Homo sapiens: one gene and its partners. The protein of the gene in region 2 interacts with the protein of the main gene of each other region in a biochemical or structural test. Each region holds a gene or a part of one and is shown on either strand. Other genes may lie near its edges.

Region 1 (11,376 bases), on a different chromosome or scaffold from region 2:
TGGCTTGGAAGGGTATGGACAGGAGTGGGGCGTGGGGGCGGGGTGCGCAACTGTGGCTCCCTGGGCTTCCCTGCGTCAAGGGATGGGCTCCCCCCTTAGGAAGCCGAGGAGGGAGGTTCGCTCAAGGCCAGGAATTCAAGACCACCTAAAGCAAAATAGCGAGACCCCCGTCTCTTCTACACACACACACACACACACACAAAATAAATAAAATAAAATAAAATAAATATAAAATTAAAAAACGACCGGGCGCAGTGGCTCACGGAGCCTCCACCTGCTGTCGAGACTAGCCTGGCCAACATGGAGAAACCTCGTCTCTACTAAAAATACAAAAAATTAGCCTGGCATGGTGTGCATGCCTGTAATCCCAGCTACTTGGGAGGCTGAGGCAGGAGAATCTCTTGAACCCGGGAGGCAGAGGTTGCAGTGAGCCGAGATCGCAGCACTGCACTCCAGCCTGGGCAACAGAGTGAGACTCCTCAAAAAAATAATAGCGATAAAATAAAAATAAAGCCAGGTGCGGTGACTCACGCTTGTAGTCCCAGCACTTTGGGAGGGCGAGGCCAGTGGATCACCTGAGGTCAGGAGTTCAAGACCAGCCTGACCAACACAGTGAAACCCCGTCTCTACTAAAAATACAAAAATTAGCTGGGTGTGGTGGTGGGCGCCTGTAATCCCAGCTACTGGGGAGGCTGAGGCAGGAGAACCTCTTGAACCCGGGAGGCGGAGGTTGCAGTGAGCCGGGATCATGCCATTGCACTCCAGCCTGGGCGACAGAGCTCGACTCCATCTCAAAATAATAATAATAATAAATAAAATAAAATACAAATACAAAAATTAGCCAGGTGTGGTGGCAGCTACTTGGGAGGCTGAGACACAAGAATCACTTGAGTCTGGGAGGCAGAGGTTGCAGTGAGCCAAGATTGCGCCACTGCACTCCAACCTGGGTGACAGAGCGAGACTCTGTCTGAAAAAATAAAAAATAAGCCAGGCATAGAGCTGCATGACTGTAGTCCCAGCTACACAGGAGGCTGAAAACAGGAGGATCGCCTGACCCCAGGAGTTGGAGGCTGCAGTGAGCTGTGACAGCACCACTGCACTCCAGCCTGGGCGAGAGAACGAGACCCCGTCATTGGGAAAAAAAAGAAAAAAGAAAGACTCCCTTGCCTGGCCTCAGCGGATGGAGATTTGGAAGGATGGATGAGTGGATGAATTAAGAGGTTGGGGTAGGCAAGCTGGGTCCTCACCAAGGTTTTCACCCCTCCCCAGACACAACTCAAGGCTCAGAACAGCAGGATCCAGCAACTCTTCCACAAGGTGGCCCAGCAGCAGCGGCACCTGGAGAAGCAGCACCTGCGAATTCAGCATCTGCAAAGCCAGGTAACCCTAGGATCAAGGGAGAAAAGGTCCCTCTGATAGCTGGACCCCAGGTTGAGAGGGAGGTGGTGAGAACTGGACGTGTGGCTGGGGACGTGGGGCCAGGCAGGACCTGACACCCTCCTCCCGTCCCATCCTAGTTTGGCCTCCTGGACCACAAGCACCTAGACCATGAGGTGGCCAAGCCTGCCCGAAGAAAGAGGCTGCCCGAGATGGCCCAGCCAGTTGACCCGGCTCACAATGTCAGCCGCCTGCACCGTGAGTGTCTGCCCCTCGATGCTCTCCGGTGGCCACCCCTACCCCGCCACTTGCCATTGCTGGTCCTCTCCTTGTCAGGTCCACCTTAAGGAGAAGATGTCCTGGCCTGGAGTCCCTGAGGGCTCACCAGTCTCTGGGTCAAAGCTGATGGGAGCACCTCCTTCCTCAGCCCTGACCTGGCCCAGCCAGGCCACCCAACCCTTCTCCTCTGCAAGCCAGTGGGCTGTCCCTGAAGCCCTGCTGATCACTGATTGGAACAGAGGTGGAGAAAGAGGTCTTGAGGGACTTGAGCTGCAGGGGTGCTGGAGAAGGTAGAAATGGGGTTCGGGGTGCCATCCTGAAGGTTAGAACCTTCTAGGGGAGGGTGTCATGGAGGAGGGGGTGCCAGGTAGTAGTGTTTGTAGATTTGGGCCCTCCACAATGTCTTGGGGTATGTGGGAATTAGGGCTGGGAACCCCCAGCTCCCAGACCAGAAACACTCTTGTATCTTACAAATCCAATGCTCCAGGTCCCTGACCCCTCTTCCTCCTTCCTCTCTTGTTCTCCTCCTCCCTCCCCGCCCCCGCCGGCCCCCTCCCCACCGCAGAAAGTGGGCTTTTGCTGCCACCACAAGTTGTAGGTGCTTTATTCCCAAATCTCCGTTCATCTCGAACCACAGCATGTCCACGTGTGTCCGATGCAGACTCGCGGTTCTCTAAGTTCACGGCCCCACACGGTTTCTCTGTGGTCCTCATCCTTCCCTGCATCTGTGGCTGTCCACAGCCAACTGGGTGAAAGTTTGGATCCCCCTCTCACACCCTAGGGTCAGTGGCAGGCTTCCAGCACTGTAGACCTGAGGGTTCTCTCCTCCCCAAGCTCCCGCTCCTTCCCACCTCCGTGCTGCCCGCCCCCAACCCCGCCAGGCTAGCATCTCAGCGTGGTCAGGGTCCTGTCCACCCTCCCAAAGCCACCATCCCAGGATGAGGGGCTTCTGGAGGGTGACGGGGGAAGGCACAAGTCCTGGCTGGGAAATGCGGTGGAAGGGGGCAGGGGTTCTGTGGGTTCGGGACTCCCAGACTCTTGGCTCAGGCCCGCCAAGTAGGAGAAAGTTCAGAGCTGGGAAGGCGAACAGCTGGCATTCATGGAAGCCACACTGGTGGTTTGGCCGCGTGCCCATCCTTACTGGATGGGAGGAAAGTAGGGGAAAGGGGAGATGCCTGAGGGGCCGGAAAGCGTCTTCCTGGTCACTCTGGGCCCGCCCCCACCCCCACCGTGCAGACTCATTTCGACCTTTCCCCTACTTTTCCGGCTGGGCTGGGGGCGGTTCCTCCCAGTCTGGAGCGTCTGAGCCTCCAGACGTGCTCAACGCCATCCTCCCCTCCTCCCTCCCTCTTTCTTTCCTCAACCCTGCCTCCTCTCCCTCTAGGAGCTGGGACCCCAGGCAGAGCCTCTGAGATGCTCCTGCTCAGCACAGTTCTTCCCGTTCTGGACCTGCTGCCTCATTCATTCATTCATTCATTCATTTGTCAAGACTGTTTTGTTTGCTTTTTGAGACGGAGTCTCGCTCTGTTGTCCAGGCTGGAGTGCAGTGGCGCAATCTCAGCTCACTGCAACCTCTGCCTCCCACTGGGTTCAAGTGATTCTCCTGCCTCAGCCTCTCAAGTAGATGGGATTATAGGCGCCTACCGCCACCACGCCCAGCTAATTTTTATTCATTTATCAAGTCTTTTTTTTTTTTGAGACAGAGTCTCACTCTGTCACCCAGGTTGGAGTGCAATGGTTCAACCTCAGCTGACTGCAACCTCTGCCTCCCGGGTTCAAGTGATTCTCCTGCCTCTGCCTCCTAAGGAGCTGGGATTACTGGCGTCCACCATCACACCCAGCTAATCTTTGTATGTTTTACTAGAGATGGGGTTTGGCCATGTTGACCAGGCTGGTCTCAAACTCCTGACCGATCCGCCCGCCTCCCAAAGTGCTGGATTACAGGCATGAACCACTGCGCCCGGCCCATTCCTCAAGTCTTTATTGAGCAGCTGCTATGCGCTGGGGCCTGCGTGGATGCTGGTGCCAGGCTGTGGGCAGAGCTGCTCCTTGTCCCCAGCCTCATGGAGCCTCCATTGAGTCAGAGGAGAGACCATTAGATGACCTCAGTGTCCAGGAGTGGGAAGTCCTTGCTCAATTCCCATTTGGGGTGTTCTGGCCTGGTCTGGGGGTGAGGCAAGGCAGGGTGTCCTTCCAGAAGCTGGGACCCAGAGAGAGAAGTGAGGAAAGAGAGTCCCGCCGGGCGCAGTGGTTCACACCTGTAATCCCAGCACTTTGGGAGGCCAAGGCTGGCGGATCACGAGGTCAGGAGATCGAGACCAGTCTGGCCAACATGGTGAAACCCCCGTCTCTACAAATAATGCAAAAACTAGTCGGGCGTGGTGGCACATGCCTGTAGTCCCAGCTGCTCCGGAGGCTGCGGCAGAATTGCTTGAACCTGGGAGGCGGAGGTTGCAGTGAGCCAAGATTGCGCCACTGCACTCCAGCCTGGCGACAGAGCGAGACTCCGTATCAAAAAACAAAACAAAAAAAGAGAGTCCCAGGCAGGGGGAACAGCATGTGCAAAGTCCCTGTGGCAGGACGGTGTGTGGTACAAGGGTGGGAAGAAAGCCTGTGTGCCAGAGAGGGTGTGGGTACAGCATGGCAGGAGGAGGATGGGCACGGGGGCTGGTCCTCCAGGTGCCTTGTGGACCATGCTGAGGAAGGACATAGGGAGCCATGGAAGAGGTTAGGCAGATGGCAGAGAGGTGGTCATGAGATAAGATTTGCCTTTTACTTCCCTGGTCATCCACTGTTAAGCCCCCAGATATGCCTGGCTCCTGAGACCCCCCCCAGGGGCTGCCCTCCTGTTTCAAGTCTCCACTTTATCTCCCTTCAGGGCTGCCCAGGGATTGCCAGGAGCTGTTCCAGGTTGGGGAGAGGCAGAGTGGACTATTTGAAATCCAGCCTCAGGGGTCTCCGCCATTTTTGGTGAACTGCAAGATGACCTCAGGTAGGGTGTGTTAGTCCACCAGGGGCCCCTCTCCCCATAGGCCCTGTTGTCTTTCTTTAAATTGAAAACAAAACAAAACAAAAAAATTAAAGGCAGGGTCTTGCTATGTTGCCCAAGCTGGTCTTTTTTTTTTTTTTTTTTTTTGAGATGGAGTTTTGCTCTTGGAGCTGGAGTGCAATGCCACGATCTCAGCTCACTGAAACCTCCGCCTCCCGGGTTCAAGCAATTCTCCAGCGTCAGCCTCCCCAGTAGCTGAGACTACAGGTGCGAGCAACCACACCCAGCTAATTTTTGTATTTTTAGTAGAGACTGGGTTTCACCATGTTGGTCTGGCTGGTCTCAAACTCCTGACCTCAAATGATTTGCCGACTTTGGCCTCCCAAAATGCTGGGATTATAGGCATTAGCCACTGCTCCTGGCCTCTTTTCTTTAAAATGCAGCCCTTGTCTGGGTGTAGTGGCTCATATCTGTAATCCCGACACTTTGGGAGGCCTATCATGAGGATCACTTGAGCCCAGAAGTTCGAGACCAGCCTGGACAACATAGTGAGAGCTCATCTTTACAAAAAATTTTGTAAAAGTAAAAAAAAAGGCCAAGTGCAGTGGCTCACACCTGTAATCCCAGCACTTTGGGAGGTTGAGGCAGACAGATCACGAGGTCAGGAGTTCGAGACCAGCCTGACCAACATGGTGAAACCCCGTCTCTACTAAAAATACAAAAATTAGCCGGGCATGGTGGTGTGCACCTGTAATCCCAGCTACTCAGGTGGCTGAGGCAGGAGAATCTCTTGAACCTGGGAGGCAGAGGTTGCAGTGAGCTGAGATGACGCCACCGCACTCCAGCCTGGGCGACAGAGCGAGACTCCGTCCCCCCATCAAAAAAATAAAAAAGAGAAAATAAAATAAAATAAAATAAAATTCAGCCCTTGCTGGGCATGGTGGCACATGCCTGTAGTCCCAGCTACTCGGGAGGCCAAGGCAGGAGGGTCACTTCAGCCCAGGAGTTAAAGGCTGCCGTGAGCCGTGATCACACCTGTGAATAGCCACCGCACTCCAACCTGGGCAACACAACAAAACCTCGTTTCTAAAAAAAAACAAAGGCTGAGCACGGTGGCTTACACCTGAAATGCCAGCACTTTGGGAGGCTGAGGCGGGCAAATCACTTGAGGTCAGAAGTTCAAGACCAGCCTGGCCAACATGGTGAAACCCTATCTCTACCAACATAAACATTAGCCGGGCGTGCCTGTGATTCCAGCTGCTTGTGGGGCTGAAGCACAAGAATCGCTTGAGCCCCGAAGGCAGAGGTTGCAGTGAGCTGAGATTGCGGCACTGCGATCCAGCCTGGGCAACAGAGTGAGACTCCATCTCTAAAAAAAAAAAAAAAAAAAAAGAAAGCTTTTTTTTCCACTGAGAAGTCCTTTCCATTACAAGAGGTTACAACACGGGGTTTTACCCAGTTCAGCTGGCCCAGAGAGGCTTTGCAGATTTCCACTGCCTACTCCCTCCCACACTCAGTCCCTGCTGGGTTCTTGGGACAAAGATCTTCCCAAGGCCAGCCCATAATATTCCTCCCTCTGACCCACCCTCCTCGAGTCCTCCAGGGATGAGTGAGGGAGCTGCTGTCTTCCTGGGTTTGGAGGGGGTTTGGTGCTTGGCAGCCAGATGAGGGAGTGGGGTCGTCTGTGAAGAGGGACTTCCTGGTGACCTTGTACCTTTCTGGGCAGATGGAGGCTGGACAGTAATTCAGAGGCGCCACGATGGCTCAGTGGACTTCAACCGGCCCTGGGAAGCCTACAAGGCGGGGTTTGGGGATCCCCACGGTAGGTGTTTCTAGTGGGGACAGAGGCAGGGGAGGAAGAGGGACCCTCAGAAGTGGCCCTGCCTCATGGAGTGGCCTCTCCCACTCCAGGCGAGTTCTGGCTGGGTCTGGAGAAGGTGCATAGCATCACGGGGGACCGCAACAGCCGCCTGGCCGTGCAGCTGCGGGACTGGGATGGCAACGCCGAGTTGCTGCAGTTCTCCGTGCACCTGGGTGGCGAGGACACGGCCTATAGCCTGCAGCTCACTGCACCCGTGGCCGGCCAGCTGGGCGCCACCACCGTCCCACCCAGCGGCCTCTCCGTACCCTTCTCCACTTGGGACCAGGATCACGACCTCCGCAGGGACAAGAACTGCGCCAAGAGCCTCTCTGGTGAGCAGGCCCTGCCATGCCACACCCAGCCAGCAGCTTCCCTCCTTATCTTTCTGCTGCTCTGTCCTGCCTTCAACCCCACATTGCATCTGTTTCCTGCCCCCACCTCTTCCTTACATGCCGTGTGTGTGATTGGGCCACTAACTTAGCCTATCTGGCCTCAGTTTTCCCATCCTGAAAAGGGTCTTGACCGTCTTTACTTTTATTTACTTATGTGTTTGTTTATTTATTTATTTATGTATTTATTTTTTGAGACGGAGTCTCACTTTGTCACCCAGGCTGGAGTGCTTTGTGGCACGATCTTGGCTCACTGCAAGCTCCACCTCCTGAGTTCACACCATTCTCCTGCCTCAGCCTCCCGAGTAGCTGGGACTATAGGTGCCCACCACCACGCCTGGCTAATTTTTTTGTATTTTTAGTAGAGATGGGGTTTCACCGTGTTAGCCAGGATGGTCTCGATCTCCTGACCTCGTGATCTGCCTGCCTCAGCCTCCCAAAGTGCTGGGATTACAGGCGTGAGCCACCGCGCCCGGCCTACTTATTTATTTTTTGAGACAGAGTCCCGCTGTGTCTCCCAGGCTGGAGTGCAAGTGACGTGATCTTGGCTCACTGCAGCCTCCGCCTCCTGGGTTCAAGTGATTCTCCTGCCTCAGCCTCCTGAGTAGCTGGGATTACAGGTTCCCGCCACCATGCACAGATAATTGTTTTGTATTTTTAGTAGAGACGGGGTTTCACCATGTTGGCCAGGGTGGTCTTGAACTCCTGACCTCAAGTGATCTGCCCACCTCGGCCTCCCAAAGTGTTGGGATTACAGGCGTGAGCCACAATACCCGGCCACAAACATCTTTATAATGGTGCTCCACAGGATTCTTTTTTTTTTTTTTTTTTTGAAACAGGGTCTCACTCTGTTGCCTAAGCTGGAGTGCAGTGGTGCGATCTCGGCTCACTGCAACCTCCACCTCCCGGGTTCAAGCAATTCTCAAAAAAAAAAAAAAATTAGGCACGGTGGCTCACACTTGCAATCCCAGCACTTTGGGAGGCTGAAGCGAGTGGATCACTTGAGCCCAGGAGACCAATCTGAGCAACAGGGCGAAATCCTGTCTCAATTAAAAATACAAAAAACTAGCTGGGCATGGTGGTGCCTGCCTGTGTTCCCATCTACTTGGGAGGCTGAGTTGGGAGGATCTCTTGAGCCTAGGAGATAAGGCTGCAGTGAGCTGAGACTGCGCCACTGCACTCAAGCCTGGGTGACAGAGTGAGACCCCTGCCTCAAAAGAAAAAGAAAAAATGCAGGCATGGTGGCTCACACCTGTGGTCCCAGCTACTTGGGAGGCCCAGGTACAAGAATCACTTGAGCCCGTAAGGTTGACGCTGCATTGAGCCATCACCACACCACTGCACTCCAGCCTGGGCAATGGAGCCAGGCCCTGTCTCAAAAAAAATTGTTTTTAAACTTAAAAATAAGGCCGGGTGTGGGGGCTCACACCTGTAATCCCAGCACTTTGGGAGGCCGAGGTGGGTGGATCACCTGAGGTCAGGAGTTCAAAACTAGCCTGGCCAACATGGTGAAACCCTGTCTCTACTAAAAATACAAAAATTAGGCCAGGCGCAGTGGGTCATACCTGTAATCCCAGCACTTTGGGAGGCTGAGGAGGGTGGATCACATGAGGTAAGGAGTTTGAGACCAACCTGGCCAACATGGTGAAACCCCCTCACTACTAAAAATACAAAAACTAGCCAGGCGTGGTGGCGGGTGCCTGTAATCCCGGCTACTCAGGAGGCTGAGGCATGAGAATCCCTTGAACCTGGGAGGCAGAGGTGCAGTGAGCCGAGATTGTGCCACTGCACTCCAGCCTGGGAGATAGAGTGAGACTCAGTCTCAAAAAAAAAGACCAAAAATTAGCCAGGTGTGGTGGCAGGCGCCTGTAATCCCAGCTACTCGGGAGGCTGAGGGAGGAGAATCACTTAAACCTGAGAGACGGAGGTTGCAGTGAGCTGAGATCGCACCACTGCACTCCAGCCTGGGTGACAGAGTAAGACTCAATCTCAAAAAAAAAAAAGTCAAGTCCAAAGCCCAGCCTGGTCCCCAACCTGCCTCATCCTCAACCCTATCCCTATCTCCTTTCAGCCCCATCGGTGGCTCAAAGACCTGACCATGTTCCCTCTCCCCTGACCCCGGCAGGAGGCTGGTGGTTTGGCACCTGCAGCCATTCCAACCTCAACGGCCAGTACTTCCGCTCCATCCCACAGCAGCGGCAGAAGCTTAAGAAGGGAATCTTCTGGAAGACCTGGCGGGGCCGCTACTACCCGCTGCAGGCCACCACCATGTTGATCCAGCCCATGGCAGCAGAGGCAGCCTCCTAGCGTCCTGGCTGGGCCTGGTCCCAGGCCCACGAAAGACGGTGACTCTTGGCTCTGCCCGAGGATGTGGCCGTTCCCTGCCTGGGCAGGGGCTCCAAGGAGGGGCCATCTGGAAACTTGTGGACAGAGAAGAAGACCACGACTGGAGAAGCCCCCTTTCTGAGTGCAGGGGGGCTGCATGCGTTGCCTCCTGAGATCGAGGCTGCAGGATATGCTCAGACTCTAGAGGCGTGGACCAAGGGGCATGGAGCTTCACTCCTTGCTGGCCAGGGAGTTGGGGACTCAGAGGGACCACTTGGGGCCAGCCAGACTGGCCTCAATGGCGGACTCAGTCACATTGACTGACGGGGACCAGGGCTTGTGTGGGTCGAGAGCGCCCTCATGGTGCTGGTGCTGTTGTGTGTAGGTCCCCTGGGGACACAAGCAGGCGCCAATGGTATCTGGGCGGAGCTCACAGAGTTCTTGGAATAAAAGCAACCTCAGAACACTTTGTTCTTTGTTCTTGTTTGTTTTCTTTCTTTTTTTTCTCTTTCTTTAGTTCACAGATCTAGTAAGTTACCCTCAGTTTGTTTTAAAAAGTGAACAAAGTCCATGTAAACATGTTCCCAGGGCCAGGCACGGTGTCTCGTGCCTGTAATCCCAGCCATTTGTGAGGCCGAGACAGGCAGGTCACTTGAGGTCAGCAGTTCGAGACCAGCCGGGCCAACATGGTGGAACCCCCATCTCTACAAAAAAATACAAAAATTAGCCGAGCATGGTGGTGCACGTCTGTAGTCCCAGCTACTCTAGAGGCTGACGCAGAAGAATCACTTGAGCCAAGGAGGCAGAGGCTGCAAATAAGCCGAGATTGCGCCACTGCACTCCAGCCTGGGCAACAGAGCAAGACTCCATCTCAAAACAAAAATAATTTTTTTTTCGTAGAGGCAGGGTCTCATTCTATTGTCCAGGCTGGTCTCAAACACCGAGACTCAAGGGATCCTCCTGCCTTGGCTTCACAAAGTGATGGGATTAAAGGTGTGAGCGCCACTGCACCCACCCCTGAAGGCTCTAATTCTACATCTGTGTTTTGTTAAAAAAAAAAAAAAAAGATGGCGTGGTCGCTCATGCCTGTAATCCCAGCACTTTAGGAGGCCGAGGCAGGTGGATCATCTGACATTACGAGTTCCAGGCCCGCCTGACCAACATGGTGAAACCCCGTCTCTACTAAAAATACAAAAATTAGCCGGGTGTGGTGGCGGGTGCCTGTAATCCCAGCTACTCAGGAGGCTGAGGCAGGAGAATCACTTGAACTCGGGAGGTGGAGGTTGCGGTGAGCAGAGATCATGCCACTGCACTCCAGCCTGGGTGACAGAGCAAGACTTGATTTCAAAAAAAAAAAAAAAAAAAAAAAGAATAGGGCTGGGCGCATTGGCTCACACTTGTAACACTAGCACTTTGGGAGGCCAACGAGCGGATCACCCGAGGTCGGGTGATCCCGCTGTATTGCTCTATATAGTGAGATCCCTATATAGGGTCTCACTCTATTGTCCAGGCTGGTCTGGCCTGGCCAATGTGGTGAAACCTCATTTCTACTAAAAATACAAAAATTAGCTGGGCATAGTGATGCGCACCTATAATCCCAGCTACTCAGGAGGCTGAGGCCGGAGAATTGCTTGAACCCAGGAGGTGGAGGTTGCAGTGAGCCGAGATGGCGCTGAGAGGTGACAGCGTGCTGGCAGTCCTCACAGCCCTCGCTCACTCTCTGCGACTCCTCTGCCTGGGCTCCCACTGTGGCGGCACTTCAGGAGCCCTTCAGCCCACCGCTGCACTGTGGGAGCCCCTTTCTGGGCTGGCCAAGGCCGGAGCTGGCTCCCTCAGCTTGCAGGGAAGTGTGGAGGGAGAGGCGCGAGCCGGAATCGGGGCTGCGCGCGGTGCTTGTGGGCCAGCTGGAGTTCCGGGTGGGCGTGGGCTTGGCGGACCCTGCACTCAGAGCAGCCGTCCGGCCCTGCTGGCCCCGGGCAATGAGGGGCTTAGCACCCGGGCCGGACAGCGGCTGCGGAGGGTGTACTGGGTCCCCCAGCAGTGCCAGCGCACCGGCGCTGCGCTTGATTTCTCACCAGGCCTTAGCTGCCTTCCCGCGGGGCAGGGATCGGGACCTGCAGCCCGCCATGCCTGAGCCTCCCACCCCCTCCATGGGC
Region 2 (12,228 bases):
CACCAGGCCTGCCCTAAAAGAGCTCCTGAAGGAAGCACTAAGCATGGAAAGGAACAACCAGTACGAGCCACTGCAAAAACATGCCAAATTGTAAAGACCATCAAGGCTAGGATGAAACTGCATCAACTAACGAGCAAAATAGCCAGCTGACATCAAAACGACAGGATCAAATTCACAGATAACGATATTAACTTTGAATGTAAATGGGCTAAATGCTCCAATTAAAAGACACAGACTGGCAAATTGGATAAAGAATCAAGACCCATCAGTGTGCTGTATTCAGGAGACCCATCTCATGTGCAGAGACACACATAGGCTCAAAATAAAGGAATGGAGGAAGATCTACCAAGAAAATGGAAAACAGAAAAAGGCAGGGGTTGCAATCCTAGTCTCTAATAAAACAGACTTTAAACCAACAAAGATCAAAAGAGACAAAGAAGGCCATTACATAATGGTAAAGGGATCAATTCAACAAGAAGAACTAACTATCCTAAATATATGTGCACCCAATACAGGAGCACCCAGATTCATAAAGCAAGTCCTTAGTGACCTACAAAGAGACTTAGACTCCCACACAATAATAATGGGAGACTTTAACACCCCACTGTCAACATTAGACAGATCAACGAGACAGAAAGTTAACAAGGATACCCAGGAATTGAACTCAGCTCTGCACCAAGCTGATCTAATAGACATCTACAGAACTCTCCACCCCAAATCAACAAAATATACATCTTTTCAGCACCACACCACACCTATTCCAAAATTGACCACATAGTTGGAAGTAAAGCACTCCTCAGCAAATGTAAAAGAACAGAAATGATAACAAACTGTCTCTCAGACCACAGTGCAATCAAACTAGAACTCAGGTATAAGAAACTCACTCAAAACTGCTCAACTACATGGAAACTGAACAACCTGCTCCTGAATGACTACCGGGTACATAACGAAATGAAGGCAGAAATAAAGATGTTCTTTGAAACCAACGAGAACAAAGACACAACATACCAGAATCTCTGGGACACATTCACAGCACTGTGTAGAGGGAAATTTATAGCACTAAATTGCCCACAAGAGAAAGCAGGAAAGATCTAAAATTGACACCCTAACATCACAATTAAAAGAACTAGAAAAGCAAGAGCAAACACATTCAAAAGCTAGCAGAAGGCAAGAAATAACTAAGATCAGAGCAGAACTGAAGGAAATAGAGACACAAAAAACCCTTCAAAAAATTAATGAATCCAGGTGCTGGTTTTTTGAAAAGATCAACAAAATTGATAGACTGCTAGCCAGACTAATAAAGAAGAAAAGAGAGAAGAATCAAATAGATGCAATAAAAAATGATAAAGGGGATATCACCACCAATCCCACAGAAATACAAACTACCCTCAGAGAATACTATAAACACCTCTATGCAAATAAACTAGAAAGTCTAGAAGAAATGGATAAACTCCTCAACACGTACATCCTCCCAAGACTAAACCAGGAAGAAGTTGAATCTCTGAATAGACCAATAACAGGCTCTGAAATTGAGGCAATAATCAATAGCTTACCAAACAAAAAAAGTCCAGGACCAGATGGATTCACAGCTGAATTCTACCAGAGGTACAAGGAGGAGCTGGTACCATTCCTTCTGAAACTGTTCCCATCAAAAGAAAAACAGGGAATCCTCCTTAACTCATTTTATGAGGCCAGCATCATCCTGATACCAAAGCCTGGCAGAGACAGAACCAAAAAAGAGAATTTTAGACCAATATCCTTGATGAACATTGATGCAAAAATCCTCAATAAAATACTGGCAAACCGAATCCAGCAGCACATCAAAAAGCTTATCCACCATGATCAAGTGGGCTTCATCCCTGGGATGCAAGGCTGGTTCAACATATGCAAATCAATAAACGTAATCCAGCATATAAACAGAACCAATGACAAAAACCACATGATTATCTCAATAGATGCAGAAAAGGCCTTTGACAAAATTCAACAACCCTTCATGCTAAAAACTCTCAATAAATTAGGTATTGATGAGACGTATCTCAAAATAATAAGAGCTATCTATGACAAACCCACAGCCAATATCATACTGAATGGGCAAAAACTGGAAGCATTCCCTTTGAAAACTGGCACAAAACAGGGATGCCCTCTGTCACCACTCCTATTCAACATAGTGTTGGAAGTTCTGGCCAGGGCAATCAGGCAGGAGAAGGAAATAAAGGGTATTCAATTAGGAAAAGAGGAAGTCAAATTGTCCCTGTTTGCAGATGACATGATTGTACATCTAGAAAACCCCATCATCTCTGCCCAAAATCTTCTCAAGCTGATAAGCAACTTCAGCAAAGTCTCAGGATACAAAATCAATGTACAAAAATCACAAGCATTCTTATACACCAATAACAGACAAACAGAGAGCCAAATCATGAGTGAACTCCCATTCACAATTGCTTCAAAGAGAATACAATACCTAGGAATCCAACTTACAAGGATGTGAAGGACCTCTTCAAGGAGAACTACAAACCACTGCTCAAGGAAATAAAAGAGGATACAAACAAATGGAAGAACATTCCACGCTTATGGCTAGGAAGATTCAATATCGTGAAAATGGCCATACTGCCCAAGGTAATTTATGGATTCAATGCCATCCCCATCAAGCTACCAATGACTTTCTTCACAGAATTGGAAAAAACTACTTTAAAGTTCATATGGAACCAAAAAAGAGACCGCATCGCCAAGTCAATCCTAAGCCAAAAGAACAAAGCTGGAGGCATCACGCTACCTGACTTCAAACTATACTACAAGGCTACAGTCACCAAAACAGCATGGTAGTGGTACCAAAACAGAGATATAGATCAATGGAACAGAACAGAGGCCTCAGAAATAATGTCCTATATCTACAACTATCTGATCTTTGACAAACCTGACAAAAACAAGAAATGGGGAAAGTATTCCCTATTTAATAAATGGTGCTGGGAAAACTGGCTAGCCATATGTAAAAAGCTGAAACTGGATCCCTTCCTTACACCTTATACAAAAATTAATTTAAGATGGATTAAAGACTTAAATGTTAGATCTAACTGCATAAAAACCCTAGAAGAAAACCTAGGCAATACCATTCAGGACATAGGCATGGTCAAGGACTTCATGACTAAAACACCAAAAGCAATGGCAACAGAAGCCAAAATTGACAAATGGTATCTAATTAAACTAAAGAGCTTCTGCACAGCAAAAGAAACTACCATCAGAGTGAACAGGCAACCTACAGAATGGGAGAAAATTTTCGCAACCTACTCATCTGACAAAGGGCTAATATCCAGAATCTACAATGAACTCAAACAAATTTACAAGAAAAAAACAAACAAACCCATCAAAAAGTGGGCGAAGGATATGAACAGACACTTATCAAAAGAAGACATTTATGCAGCCAAAAGACACATGAAAAAATGCTCACTGGCCATCAGAGAAATGCAAATCAAAACCACAATGAGATACCATCTCACACCAGTTAGAATGGCGATCATTAAAAACTCAGGAAACAACAGGTGCTGGAGAGGATGTGGAGAGATAGGAACACTTTTACACTGTTGGTGGGACTGTAAACTAGTTCAACCATTGTGGAAGTCAGTGTGGTGATTCCTCAGGGATCTAGAACTAGAAATACCATTTGACCCAGCCGTCCCATTACTGGGTATATACCCGAAGGATTATAAATCATGCTGCTATAAAGACACATGCACATGTATGTTTATTGTGGCACTATTCACAATAGCAAAGACTTGGAACCAACCCAAATGTCCAACAACGATAGACTGGATTAAGAAAATGTGGCACATATACACCATGGAATACTATGCAGCCATAAAAAATGATGAGTTCATGTCCTTTGTAGGGACATGGATGAAACTGGAAAACATCATTCTCAGCAAACTATCACAAGGACAAAAAACCAAACACCACATGTTCTCACTCATAGGTGGGAATTGAACAATGCAAACACATGGACACAGGAAGGGGAACATCACACACTGGGGACTGTTGTGGGGTGGGGGGAGGGGGAGGGATAGCATTAGGAGATATACCTAATGTAAATGACAAGTTAATAGGTGCAGCACACCAACATGGCACAGGTATACATATGTAACAAACCTGCACGTTGTGCACATTTACCCTAAAACTCAAACTATAATAATAATAAAATGTTTTAAAAATTCAATAGATTTTACAATATTTTTAAATAATTATGACTTTGTATTTATACATTTTATTTGTATTAGTATGTTTTCTTACATTAATTATACTTTTTATAAGGACAAGATCCGACTCAGTACTGATGTTCTTTAGAGCCTACTTACACATTTCATTGTATTTTACTTTAGTAAGAAAGCCACAAAATAAAAATCTACATTAAAATATGTGTGTACAAAAAAAATCTGATTCCCAGCCTATTCCTGTTTGCAATTGCTGCAACATTAAAATATAGCACATCAAATACATATTTGCTTCTCGGCTAGGATCGCCAAAGAAAAAACATCTTATGATTTGTGGTTGCTGTTATTTAATCTTCCCTGAGCTTCATCTTCCCTCATCTGTAGAAGGGGAATATTATTGAGTTTGGAGTGCTTTTGTAATGATTAAACACAGTAGAAGATGAAAAGTGCCCAGTGCAATTAGCAGGCCTTCAATCAAAATAAGCAAGCTAGCTAGCTAGCTGGCTGGCCAGCTAAATAATGCTTCCCTACATCCAGAATTTCCAGTTGTTTCATTAGATATGCACATTCAAGTTTTTACTTAGGTAATTTTAAATGTGTCCCAGTGGCAAGTGTCCTGCTAAAGGGGTACTGTTAGCTTCTTCTCACCTAAAACTTAGTTTGTTACAAAGGAAATGCCAATTATGGAAAAAGTCAAGCCTTGAGCTACTGAAGGCCGAGTAACCTCGCCAAAGTTTGGATGAGTCGCTTCACTAATGCACATGCAATCCTGACCTAGAGATCATGTGAGTTTCTGCGTTAGAAGGCGGGCACCTGATGGCTCCCAGTGCAGCCAATCAGGAGAGAACGTTGCCGCCACACCCACCTGCTCCGCGCTGGCCCTGGGAGAGGAGCCAACCTGTCTTGCTTTTTTTTTTTTTTTAACCAGGCTAAGCTGCTGTAAATTAAGTCTTCCTGGAAATCTCAGCAACTCTATTGGACGTGCTAATGGCACAGTTCACTCCAAACTGGATTCATATTTAAATATTACATATCCTCCAACTCTTGAGTGCTTTAATTTTGTTATCTGGTTAGCCTGGGAAATCATTTTAAAAATACGCTATAAGTATCAGACTTTCCCTTAGCAATTATATAAAATCTCCTTGCAGTTTTCTGAAAGGCACAGAAGTGCAGTTTGATTTGGTTGTCTTATCAAAGGACATTTATGCATGAAAATAGGCTGCAGGAGTATTCTATATAAGATAGCAGGCAGTTCTGCACGTCTGTTTATATGCCATTCACACCATGAACACATCCAATGCAATTGTATTCATCTTCTGTCATTTTTTAAAATTAGAGTTTACTACATGATTTTTGGAGGACGGCCATATCATAGTTATTCATCCCTTGCATGGTCTGTTCTGCCACTTCTAAAGTTCTGCGAAGTTTAATTTTTGGCAGGTTTCAAGATTCTCTACATACTTTGTAGGTTAGAGTGAACGTGCACAGTATATTGTGTAATAATTGCAATACAAGACGGTGTGTTGTGTTGTGGCACGGAATGCATCAACTTAAAGATAGAATTGTTATGCAGAATAGAGACCTTTGAAATATTTGGGTATTATCAACTTTTATTTCATTTTTTGAGAAAAACTTAAAAAGTGAGCCCAGTTTTTTAAAAAGCATTTCATTGTTCTAACCTACAATTGTGCATTGTATGTTTGTGTGTGTGTGACGGAGGGTGGGATGAATAAAAGGGGACATTAAAAATATTCAGACCATAAATATAGTAGATTGGAGGTTCTGATTTGATGAGCCAGTTTCTCAGCCATAAACTGAGAGGGGGTTGGGGATACACTTCATTGTCCTTCCTGGCTAATGTAAATCCCTTATATTTAAAAAGATATTTAAAAGTATTCCAAGCATTTTGGCAGAAAAGCATAGTATCTAATGTTATTTTTTTCTTATTTTATGTGCATGCCTCTTATCCATTTAAAAATAGCTTTACTGACCTATAATTTACACACTATATAATTCTCCCATTGAAAGTGCATAATTCTGTTGCTTTTAGTATATTTACAGAGTTGTGCAGCATCAGCATAATGTAATCTAGAACATTGTCATCAACTACCCCCAAATCTCTATTCTTCCCTTCCCCTATTAATTACCCAGCCCCAGGCAAGCACTGATCTACTTTTGGTCTCTATGGATTTGTCTATTTGTGGACACTTTAAATGGAATCATACAATATGTGTCTTTTGCGACTATCTTCTTTCACTTATCATAACTCAATACGGCTTTAGATTATTTGACCTCGATGTTCTGCCTCTGAACATAAAATATTATCCTTGCATTCCTTGATGAGTTTGAGGATTGAGAATAATTTGCATGAGACAAAAATTAGAAACTAGTTAGAGCAAGTAGGCTTTTCTCCATCACATAAGCTGATCCATCTTGCCAATGTTAAAACACCAGATTGTACAAGCACAAGCTGGGACGCAATGTGTGTCCCTCTATCCCTACATTGACTTTGCGGGGGTGGGGATGGGGTGCGGGGTGAGTGAGGGAGGACTGCAAGTGACAAACAGGATTCGTCAAAAGAGAGGTGTATTAAAGTGCCGATCAAATGTAATTTAACAGCTAAACTTTCCCTCCTTGGAAAACAGGTGATTGTTGAGTATTTAACGTGAATCGATGTAAACCTGTGTTTGGTGCTTAGACAGGGGGCCCCCGGGTAGAGTGGAACCCCTTAAGCTAAGCGAACAGGAGCCTAACAAAGCAAATTTTTCCGTCTGCCCTTTCCCCCTCTTCTCGTTGGCAGGGTTGATCCTCATTACTGTTTGCTCAAACGTTTAGAAGTGAATTTAGGTCCCTCCCCCCAACTTATGATTTTATAGCCAATAGGTGATGAGGTTTATTTGCATATTTCCAGTCACATAAGCAGCCTTGGCGTGAAAACAGTGTCAGACTCGATTCCCCCTCTTCCTCCTCCTCAAGGGAAAGCTGCCCACTTCTAGCTGCCCTGCCATCCCCTTTAAAGGGCGACTTGCTCAGCGCCAAACCGCGGCTCCAGCCCTCTCCAGCCTCCGGCTCAGCCGGCTCATCAGTCGGTCCGCGCCTTGCAGCTCCTCCAGAGGGACGCGCCCCGAGATGGAGAGCAAAGCCCTGCTCGTGCTGACTCTGGCCGTGTGGCTCCAGAGTCTGACCGCCTCCCGCGGAGGGGTGGCCGCCGCCGACCGTAAGTTTTGCGCGCAAACTCCCCTCCACCTGCAGACCCGGCGGGTGGCCACTGCCACCCGAACTGAGGATGAGAAGAAGGAAGTTGGAAGGGGCGGTGGATGCGCCCAGGGACTCTCCCAGCCTGGGCTCTAGCCCCGAAACGGTCCCCGGAGTGGGATCCAGGAGGGGCCGGGAGGGAATCTCCTCCCGATCGTGAAGCGGCGGCGCCCAGTTCCCGCTTTTTCTCTCTGCCGGGTTCCCGCGCTATCCCTTCCACTCTGGCTGGGACCGCGTTCCCGGGCTCGCAGGCTCCGCCGGGGAGGTTCCGGGGTGTGGGGGCCGGGACGGCGGAGGCGGGGAGTAAGGGCCCGGCTGGCGGTGACCTGCAGTCACCTCTCTGCCGGAGGGGCCCTGGAATGAAAGGCGCGCGGGCCAAGGTGACCTCGCCTTGGTTGGCACTGCGGCTCAGCCCCCGCCCGGGGACTCGCGGGCCGACTGTGGCCCCTTCTGGGGAAGCCGGGGCGCGGGGAGGCGTTCCGGGCATCTCAGCCGCACGGGGTACGCTCGCCCTCGGCGGGGCCCCTCGCTCCGCTGTGGGAGTGGCAGTGGGTGTCGGGGTGGAGAAAGTACGCGTGGCGCGGAGTCCTGGGGACGCGGCGTCCCACCCGCTCTGGGGAGCCCCGGACTCTCTCCAGCTTCCAGGCTCGCATGCCCCTCTTTTCTTAGTGCCCTGAGAACCCAGCGAGGGGCTGACCCTCCCGAAACCGTGGCGCAGCCACCAGCAATCTGTGGTCGCCGACTCGGGGGGTTGCCAGGTCTGCGTTTGGCCACCCTTTCTGTCCTGGGGGCTGAGGTCAGCTCCGGGCGCCCGGCCCCGCCGCGCGGCTGCGAGCACGTGGGGTTGACGGGCGCCGCGTGGAGGCAGCGAGCACAACGGTGGTCACCGCCGCCAGGGAACCGCCCGCTCGCTGGGGTCCAGGCGTTCGGGGCCAAATGAGAATGTCTCAGACCTGTCCGCAATGGAGGCAGCCTGCTTAATTCGAACCTCGATTCAGTAAACATGCAACAGCAGCATAGAGAGCAGCTGAAGCCATTCATAACACGGGACAACATTTCCTTTTTTCTTCCATGCTGGAATTGCAATTAGGGCGGTGTCGCTTGGATGTGCTCTCAGGCGGCACGTCCCCAGCGGTTCAAGTTATAATAGAGTCTCTCCATAGCTTTGATGGCCGCTAAACGTTTGTTTTATTTTGGCATTAATTTGTGAAACATTTTTGTTAGGTTAAAAAACAAAAAGTTGGCAGGGAGCAGTGGCTCACCCATGTAGTCCCAGCACTTCGGGAGGCCGAGGCCGGAAGACAGCTTGAGCCCAGAAGTTCGAAATCAGCCTGGGCAACATAGGGAGACACCGTCTCTATAAAAAAAAAATACAAAAATTAGCCGGGCGTGGTGGCCTGTGCCTGTGGTCCCAGATAGTCAGCAGGCTGAGAGATCACTTGAGCCAGGGAGTTTCAGTAGACTGCAGTGAGCTGTGATTGCCCCACTGCACTTCATCCTGGGTGACAGTGAGACCCTGTCTCATAAAATTAAAACAAAACAAAACAAACACTAAGTATAGATTCCATCAAAGCAAAATTGGATAAGAAAAAAAGTATCTTTTCTATTGGATCAGTTTGAAAACACTGGAGAGTTGATGAGAAAGTCTTCAACATCTTAGGTGGGGTATGTTTCGTATGTTTCCCTTCGTACTGCTTAATGCTGACAAGAAGATGGTAGGAGCCAACTCCAAATTCTTATTTCAGAAAGCACACCATAGAATAACGTCATTTTCATTGCAAAACAAGCACCGAAATATGTCATCACATTCAAGTTTTTCCTAGGCTCCCTTACAGGTTCAAGATCCTAAATTCTTGGGAGTCAGTGTCACCTCTCTGGGTTTAGGTTCCTCAACTCTGCAATGAGTTTGGATGAGGCCAATGTTCTCTGAGCCTGGTGTAACTCTTGCCTCTTTAAGTGGACACTTATGTGATTAATTAGTTTAATTGAGTTGTAGCCAACACATGCTTTTCCTAGCTGTAAATATATTAAGGAAGGATTATTTCCAAGTAGACTGGAAACGATGCCCTCCCATCCCCTCCACTTTCACTCTACTCACCCAATATATCATGCCTCTCCCATCACAGCAACTTTCTCCCTCTTTCTCCTCCAGATGCATTCATCTAGGAAGGTAAGAATTTCAGGGAGAGAAAGATGTCACCGTGGTAGAAAGACAGGGATCACCTCCTCTGGGCTCTTGAGTTTACTTATTCATTCTGGATTCTTTCTAACAAGAATATGAGGACAAGAGGCACTGTCCTCAGGCACTTCGTCCTGGGAGCCACCACCATCTCTGCATGGCCCCAATTAGGAAACGTGAAGAGCTAGGAGAGGGAGAGTATGGTCAGTGCTTAGCAGCTGAAGTTCCACTTGCCTGGCCATCGTGAATTTCCAGGCTGTCTTCTGAGTTGAACATGATGGCAAAGGAGAGCAAAATAGCAGATGTCACTGAAGGAGAGCTCAGCGAGGGAGTGATTGATTAATAGCTGTATTGAAAGGTGGGAGTCAGGTACGGGGGAAGAGCGGCGATGGAAAATTTTCGCTTTCTTTCAGCAGCTTATTTTTAACTCAGCTTTCTGTTCTTGCTTTATTATGGAGGAAAAATTGGGCCATAGAGTTTACTGCCTTATGCCAGATTGTTCAAGAAAATGCCTTGCAACTTACAATATTTTGCAGCTAGTTTCTTCCGTGACCACCACAAAGACTGCATTGACTTAAATATGAAGATGTTCCAGCCATCAAAATGATGGTTGGTGATGATTTTGGATCACAAAGTGTAAGGAAAGTATTCAAGACATGAGTATCATGATTTTTTAAGGTCTGGATGAAGAGACCATTTGGATTTACTAATAAGGTAAATTCCAACTTTTATGGCAATAAAAACAACAAAAACACTTATCAGTGTAAAGCTTTGGGATCATCTATCCATTAAATGAGTTTGTCACCACAGTGAACTAAATACCTTTTATCAACAGAGACTTTCTAACCTGGGAGTAAAATTCTTGTCACAGTGCTTTTGTCACATTCTGTCTTTGCAAAAGTTGAAGGCTCCAATAGTTTCTGAAGGACTAATAGGATAGGGTTCCAACTTACTCAGAGGCTAAGAGTTTGAAATTTACTCTGAACGATGTCTGTTCACTAGACTGCGTGACTGCAGTTTGCTGTCTTGTGGCCATTTTAAGATTGTCTGTGTGCACTGACACCATTTGCGTACTCAACAACAGGTATCTACTAGGAAGGAAGGAATGGATTATCTTAGGTGCTATATATATATGTAAGTTCTGCCGGAAGTGAGCCTATTAAACTTGTGCCAATTCATTCCTTTTGCTCTTCCCAGTCTGTGCTCTCAGAATGATCAAATGCTATCTAAGTAGTGTGGTGATTTTGACTGTTTGAATGAATAAACGAAAACGTCTCCCACCATTATTTGACAGTAGAATAGAACAAAGATGACCCAGTTGGCGTGGCCACACTGTGTCTAATCCAGCCACCTTGCTCACAGCACTCAACCCACTTTGGTGTGTGCGCTCATCTGTATTTTCGTAAATGTTGAAGTCTCTTTCTATGCAGTCAGGTAGGGGTAATACCATTCTGGCTTGGATTAATTTGAGTGTAGTACAAAGTTTAGAGAAGCTTTTAAGTAGCATGAAAAGTCAGATGCTTTCGGAGGGATGGTGGTGAATGTAGGTAAATGGATCTGCACTTAGAGATCCTCAACAGCCCTTCATTCAAGATACAGCTATCATGACATCAATAATGTACCTTTGAAAAAAAATTGGCTGCAGAATTAATTACGGTGAAAAACAGTATAGGAGTTAGCACTTACATTTTAACTAAAAAGAATAGCGTCCCCATGTTTATTCAGCCCTCCCTCCAATAAAACAATTGTTGGCAAAGTAATCATGGACTTTCATTGTGTTAGTTTGAGACAACTGGATGTTTCCATTTGCCATCCTCAGCAACAAGAAGAAAGTAGTCTCAGATTAACCAGGTAAGTATTTTGTATTTCACTTAAAAAATCTTGACTGAAATATGCCTATGTGATGACACTCAACCAAATTATTTCATTAACCAGTCCACAAGATCTCCTTAAATAATGATGGCTTATTCACACTTGATGGTCTCATTCAGTGGGGCAATTTTAATACACATCTCTGAACCTATTTTTTAACCCCTCTTTTTCAGTAGTGTGGAAGGTTAGCCCTAATATTGGAGAAAATTCAGGGTAAAATTCAGATGATTCATACAGGATTTATTTTTCCTATTCCATTAATAAAACAACTTTTATAAAAATAAAAAGTAGGCTGGCACAGTGGCTCACTCCTGTAATCCCAGCATTTTGGGAGGCCGAGGCGGGTGGATCATGAGGTCGGGAGTTCAAGACCAGCGTGGCCAGGATGGTGAAACCCCATCTCTACTAAAAATACAAAAATTAGCCAGGCGTGGTGGCAGGCACCTGTAATCCCGGCTACTCGGGAGGCTGAGGCAGAGAATGGCTTGAACCCAGGAGGCATAGGTTGCAGTGAGTCACGATCGTGCCACTGCACTCCAGCCTGGGTGACAGAGCAAGACTCCGTTTCAAAAAATAATAATAAAATAAAATGAAATAAAGTAAAGCTGCATGTTAGAGAAGTCAAGAGCATTACTTACGTTAGAATATCTGAACAGACCAATCAATTCAGTCTGATCATGATATTGATGTTTTTCTTCACCAAATCGACCACATCAGTAA
Region 3 (6,294 bases), on a different chromosome or scaffold from region 2:
CACTTAAATAAAAATAAAATGTTACTGCTAAACTAACGATAAACTACTGAATATATAGAAAGTAAGCAAACAAACTTGCCAACCTGCCAACATCTACAGATATGTTTACAGGTCAAAAATTATCAAATTATCAAGAAAGCCTGGTTCAAATTATGTATTATGTCTTTATCACAGGTCTGAAGATCAGTAAGACCTAAAACTGAAAATTATTAAACTTAAAATCTGAACAGAATATCAAATATATTTTATTCATATAAATAAAAGAATACATTACAATATTCTAAGCAAAGCAGTCTCTACTTTTGGCCTTGCTCTGTTTTCCGACCAATGTCTGCTTTTTTGCCTTGCTTTATTTTTTTATCTTATTAAATAATGTCCCTGATTAAATATTTTGAGAACAGGTAATCTGTACAATCTGAATAACACTGTTTATCTAAATATCAAACACCGTTATAACATTATGAACTGAAAGACAAACTGTACTTCTGACATCCTTACTCAGATTTCCCCTAATTGTATATTCAGTATCATTTTAAAAAACAGATTTATATTCTTTTATCAGCTCAGAAGGACTAGTATTCAAGAACCCACAGAAATTTCTCTATCTTCCAAGCCAAGAGCACCAAGAACTACTCCCTTTCTTCAGTTGAATGAAATAAGAAATGTAAAACATGATGGTAAGACACTTTGGTGGGTTTCCTTCTTGAAGCTATTATTATCAAATTCCCTATTCTTAGGACTTGTTCTAGACTAAAAGATAGTTAAGAGATATCCATCAAATACAATGTATCAACCTAAACTGGATGCTGGGGTTCTTTTTACACCCTATAAAAGACATACCTAAGACAATCAGAGAAATACAAATATGGACTTGATTATTAGATAATATAGAAGGTTTATTAATTTTCTTAGATGTGATCATGGTATTGCAGTTTTAAAGGAGAACAATCTCCTGTTTAAGAGATACATGCTGAAATATTTACGGAGTTAAAGGTCACTGGACTCCAGACTGGTGATAGAACAAGACTCTGTCTCTAAAAAATAATTAATTTTTTAAAAGAAAATAGTTTGGTAAGATGATTCTTACATTCTTAAATAACACGCCATCTAAGAAAAATGCTTTAACATAAACATTACTGAAAAAATGCTACATTTGCCACAACTTCATAAAATGTCAAGTGAAATCTCAAGCTCCAAAGATATTATTCCTATTACTAAATCTGATGTAATAACATTTTATTGATTCTAGGCATTCCTGCTGAATGTACCACCATTTATAACAGAGGTGAACATACAAGTGGCATGTATGCCATCAGACCCAGCAACTCTCAAGTTTTTCATGTCTACTGTGATGTTATATCAGGTAAAACCTGTCTAAGGAGAATAGACAGTAGTTAGTTCAACTTACTCATTACGTATTAGGAAGATTAACCTGGTTATCATTGTTTTATACATATATATATGAAATATATATGAGTATTCGTATAAATATAATACTTTTACCTTGTTTATGTATTTACTCAATATTCTCCTTTTCCTCTAAAATAATCTGAAGTGACTATTATCAATAAGTTTACTATGCCAAAATTCATTAATTGCCTTTCACTTAACTTTTGGGACCATAATAAATAATAAAATGTATTGCCATAACATTAATAAACTACCTTACAAAACCACCAATTAAAATCAAACAAACAAAAAAGTGTTATTTACATCTGTCAACATAAATCTACTAAAAATACATGATTTCATTCATTATATTCAGGTAGTCCATGGACATTAATTCAACATCGAATAGATGGATCACAAAACTTCAATGAAACGTGGGAGAACTACAAATATGGTTTTGGGAGGCTTGATGGTAAGGGGACTACATTCAATCATTCATTCACTTGCTAATCTACAAATATTTACTGAGAACCTCTTATGGACCAGGTATTAGGAAAAGTAGTAACGAACGAGAAGCAGTCTCAGCCTTCATATAATTTATTATCAAACAATTACACATTTGTTAGTAAATTACACTTATTACAACTGTTATTATTTGAATTATATTTATCACAATTACATGTCTGTTCTTAAATATACTTATCACAATTTAATTCCACGGCTTACAATGATCATAACTATAATTATTAAAGACAATTTTGATTAAATGTTATGTCATAAGTAGTAACTGTTACAAATAAGCTGTGAAAAGAACCACTCCTAGCATTAGTCACTCTATTCTCTCATTAACGTTTTACATATCAATTAATTGGAAGTTAAAAGGACCAGGAAACTCAGACATACAGTATACATTTTAAAATTTCAATTATTTAAATATAATATATAGAATGTATGGCTTATAATGAATTAGTTAACTCAATGCAAATTATTCTATTTTGATTACAAATAGTAAAATAAGCAAGATAAAATAACAGATGTTTAAAATCCAAAAAGCACATACAAAAATCCATGAATGATGTCTAAGTACTCACTTATAAAGTAGAAGACATTCATTATTATATCAAATTTTTAAATGCTCAGTACTATTTGACCATTTAAAAATTTTGTATTCAAACTACCAGTGAAAGCCCTACCTAGAAGGTATACTCAGTGATAAGTTTTGTAGCTCCAAATCTTCTAATAGTGAGTGTAACCCCAAAATAAAAGGCTGACAGGTAAGTCGAGAATACTCACTTAATTCTGGTAAGAAAGCAACCCATTTGTACTTGTATTTACCAGCAATCCTTAAAATGAAGCTTCCTACTAACTCAATAGCAATAAGACAATAGTGAATGTTTAATGAAAACAGTATTTTATAAATACTTTAATAAAAAGGATTGTGATGAAGAACAATCTATTTATATTTGTTATTTGTTTTTAATTCCAATAAAAATAATTTTTAAAATTACAGAAAAAAGTTATTAAGAACCATGCTTTTAAATTTAAAATGATTTTTTAAATTTATTCCTGTCTTTTTCTACAAAGAAAGCATACATTAAGCAAATACCAAAGGCCAGGTTTACATTTGAAGAAAGTGACATTATTATTACTCAAGTCTCTAGGAATACTTAACACATCTCTTGACTGTATATGGATGTTAATAAATAGCTGACAGTAAAGTTTATCCATATAAAGACTTGCAAATATTCCTCTACCAATGACGAGACTTTAAAATATCTATAATAATGTAACACATTTCACTGGTGAAACATGTCTTGTCATATGCATTATAGAAAGGATAATCAGACTTTCAGTTATATTAATATTTTTAACATTTTTGTGCACATAGCTATCTTCAATAAAATTGTTTTAAAAGGTATTATTTTAAGATACACTAAAATGATCAAGGGATTCAAGACTAAACAACTCAATTAGTTGCACCAATAAAAAACACTTAAAAAAACTGTCAGTGTCCAACCTGTACTTAATAACTCACAGATTTTTAAAACTTTTCTTTTCAGGAGAATTTTGGTTGGGCCTAGAGAAGATATACTCCATAGTGAAGCAATCTAATTATGTTTTACGAATTGAGTTGGAAGACTGGAAAGACAACAAACATTATATTGAATATTCTTTTTACTTGGGAAATCACGAAACCAACTATACGCTACATCTAGTTGCGATTACTGGCAATGTCCCCAATGCAATCCCGGAAAACAAAGATTTGGTGTTTTCTACTTGGGATCACAAAGCAAAAGGACACTTCAACTGTCCAGAGGGTTATTCAGGTATCTTTTTCTGATACCAATACTTTATTTTCATATCTTCAAAGTATCTTCCCACATTATTAGCTATTATCTGCAATGACAACTTTTAAAAATCCGAATCCCAAATAAGCGTTTTCTCTCTAGACGAAAACCTCTTAACTATAATGAAAGTGTTCATTCTAGTTCAATCAGGTATTTTACCTCTAATCTTCCTCAGATTTTCTATTTTTTGGTAGTGTATAGATTATTTATACAGATTATTTAAAATTGGGACTTATACAGATTATTTAAAACTGGGATACATGCATCTAAAACACTGTAATATTTATAAGAAAGGAAGATAAACTTACGGGGAAATACAGTAACAGTAACTACATACGAGTCTGTACCCATTAAATTGCATATCTATCTCCTTTAGGAGGCTGGTGGTGGCATGATGAGTGTGGAGAAAACAACCTAAATGGTAAATATAACAAACCAAGAGCAAAATCTAAGCCAGAGAGGAGAAGAGGATTATCTTGGAAGTCTCAAAATGGAAGGTTATACTCTATAAAATCAACCAAAATGTTGATCCATCCAACAGATTCAGAAAGCTTTGAATGAACTGAGGCAAATTTAAAAGGCAATAATTTAAACATTAACCTCATTCCAAGTTAATGTGGTCTAATAATCTGGTATTAAATCCTTAAGAGAAAGCTTGAGAAATAGATTTTTTTTATCTTAAAGTCACTGTCTATTTAAGATTAAACATACAATCACATAACCTTAAAGAATACCGTTTACATTTCTCAATCAAAATTCTTATAATACTATTTGTTTTAAATTTTGTGATGTGGGAATCAATTTTAGATGGTCACAATCTAGATTATAATCAATAGGTGAACTTATTAAATAACTTTTCTAAATAAAAAATTTAGAGACTTTTATTTTAAAAGGCATCATATGAGCTAATATCACAACTTTCCCAGTTTAAAAAACTAGTACTCTTGTTAAAACTCTAAACTTGACTAAATACAGAGGACTGGTAATTGTACAGTTCTTAAATGTTGTAGTATTAATTTCAAAACTAAAAATCGTCAGCACAGAGTATGTGTAAAAATCTGTAATACAAATTTTTAAACTGATGCTTCATTTTGCTACAAAATAATTTGGAGTAAATGTTTGATATGATTTATTTATGAAACCTAATGAAGCAGAATTAAATACTGTATTAAAATAAGTTCGCTGTCTTTAAACAAATGGAGATGACTACTAAGTCACATTGACTTTAACATGAGGTATCACTATACCTTATTTGTTAAAATATATACTGTATACATTTTATATATTTTAACACTTAATACTATGAAAACAAATAATTGTAAAGGAATCTTGTCAGATTACAGTAAGAATGAACATATTTGTGGCATCGAGTTAAAGTTTATATTTCCCCTAAATATGCTGTGATTCTAATACATTCGTGTAGGTTTTCAAGTAGAAATAAACCTCGTAACAAGTTACTGAACGTTTAAACAGCCTGACAAGCATGTATATATGTTTAAAATTCAATAAACAAAGACCCAGTCCCTAAATTATAGAAATTTAAATTATTCTTGCATGTTTATCGACATCACAACAGATCCCTAAATCCCTAAATCCCTAAAGATTAGATACAAATTTTTTACCACAGTATCACTTGTCAGAATTTATTTTTAAATATGATTTTTTAAAACTGCCAGTAAGAAATTTTAAATTAAACCCATTTGTTAAAGGATATAGTGCCCAAGTTATATGGTGACCTACCTTTGTCAATACTTAGCATTATGTATTTCAAATTATCCAATATACATGTCATATATATTTTTATATGTCACATATATAAAAGATATGTATGATCTATGTGAATCCTAAGTAAATATTTTGTTCCAGAAAAGTACAAAATAATAAAGGTAAAAATAATCTATAATTTTCAGGACCACAGACTAAGCTGTCGAAATTAACGCTGATTTTTTTAGGGCCAGAATACCAAAATGGCTCCTCTCTTCCCCCAAAATTGGACAATTTCAAATGCAAAATAATTCATTATTTAATATATGAGTTGCTTCCTCTATTTGGTTTCCTTAAAAAAAAAAAAAACTCTCATAGGACATGTTTCATTTTGTTCCTTTCAGGAGTAGTAAATTAGACGTTTTCCCCATATAAAGCTTTTTTCTACCAGAAAGATACTTCTGGTAGAAGAAGAGAAAGGAGCTCTTTATGGTTCACACGACTGTCTCCTGTCCTAACTACTTTGCTTAAAGTGCTCAAATTCCATCACTACTCACAGTTGTCTAATCTAAGTCTAATCCCCTTTGATCTCTCAGACTACCTTCCCTTTTATCTCTCTACTACTTAATAATAAGAATATCTTTTTTTCAAACTTGACCTTCATTTTGCTTTCACAATACTATACTCTCCATGGATTATCCCTTATCTGAATCCATCTTTATAACCCTATTCCTTTCTCATATTTAGTACTGTGGGCCAATGGACAACCTTCAATCATCTTTTCTACACTGACCCTCAGACATTCTATCTGCTCTCACGGACTCCTTTATTTACCATGAATAAAGTTCCAAAA

The links.
Region 1: the proteins of LPL (region 2) and ANGPTL4 form a complex in vitro, tested with the Homo sapiens proteins (one study listed by IntAct).
Region 3: the proteins of LPL (region 2) and ANGPTL3 form a complex in vitro, tested with the Homo sapiens proteins (one study listed by IntAct).

Annotation. Positions count from the first base shown.
Region 1 is NC_000019.10:8,364,685-8,376,060, forward strand, and holds the end of ANGPTL4 (angiopoietin-related protein 4 isoform a precursor), read left to right. Parts: intron 1-1,269; coding exon 1,270-1,380; intron 1,381-1,517; coding exon 1,518-1,635; intron 1,636-4,534; coding exon 4,535-4,648; intron 4,649-6,371; coding exon 6,372-6,467; intron 6,468-6,556; coding exon 6,557-6,838; intron 6,839-8,966; coding exon of another isoform or gene 8,967-9,020; coding exon 9,021-9,202; 3' UTR 9,203-9,686; downstream 9,687-11,376. UniProt on the Homo sapiens protein: Mediates inactivation of the lipoprotein lipase LPL, and thereby plays a role in the regulation of triglyceride clearance from the blood serum and in lipid metabolism. May also play a role in regulating glucose homeostasis and insulin sensitivity.
Region 2 is NC_000008.11:19,932,110-19,944,337, forward strand, and holds the start of LPL (lipoprotein lipase precursor), read left to right. Parts: upstream 1-7,143; 5' UTR 7,144-7,331; coding exon 7,332-7,419; intron 7,420-12,228. UniProt on the Homo sapiens protein: Key enzyme in triglyceride metabolism.
Region 3 is NC_000001.11:62,600,520-62,606,813, forward strand, and holds the end of ANGPTL3 (angiopoietin-related protein 3 preproprotein), read left to right. Parts: intron 1-562; coding exon 563-677; intron 678-1,249; coding exon 1,250-1,363; intron 1,364-1,765; coding exon 1,766-1,861; intron 1,862-3,449; coding exon 3,450-3,716; intron 3,717-4,113; coding exon 4,114-4,298; 3' UTR 4,299-5,794; downstream 5,795-6,294. UniProt on the Homo sapiens protein: Acts in part as a hepatokine that is involved in regulation of lipid and glucose metabolism. Proposed to play a role in the trafficking of energy substrates to either storage or oxidative tissues in response to food intake.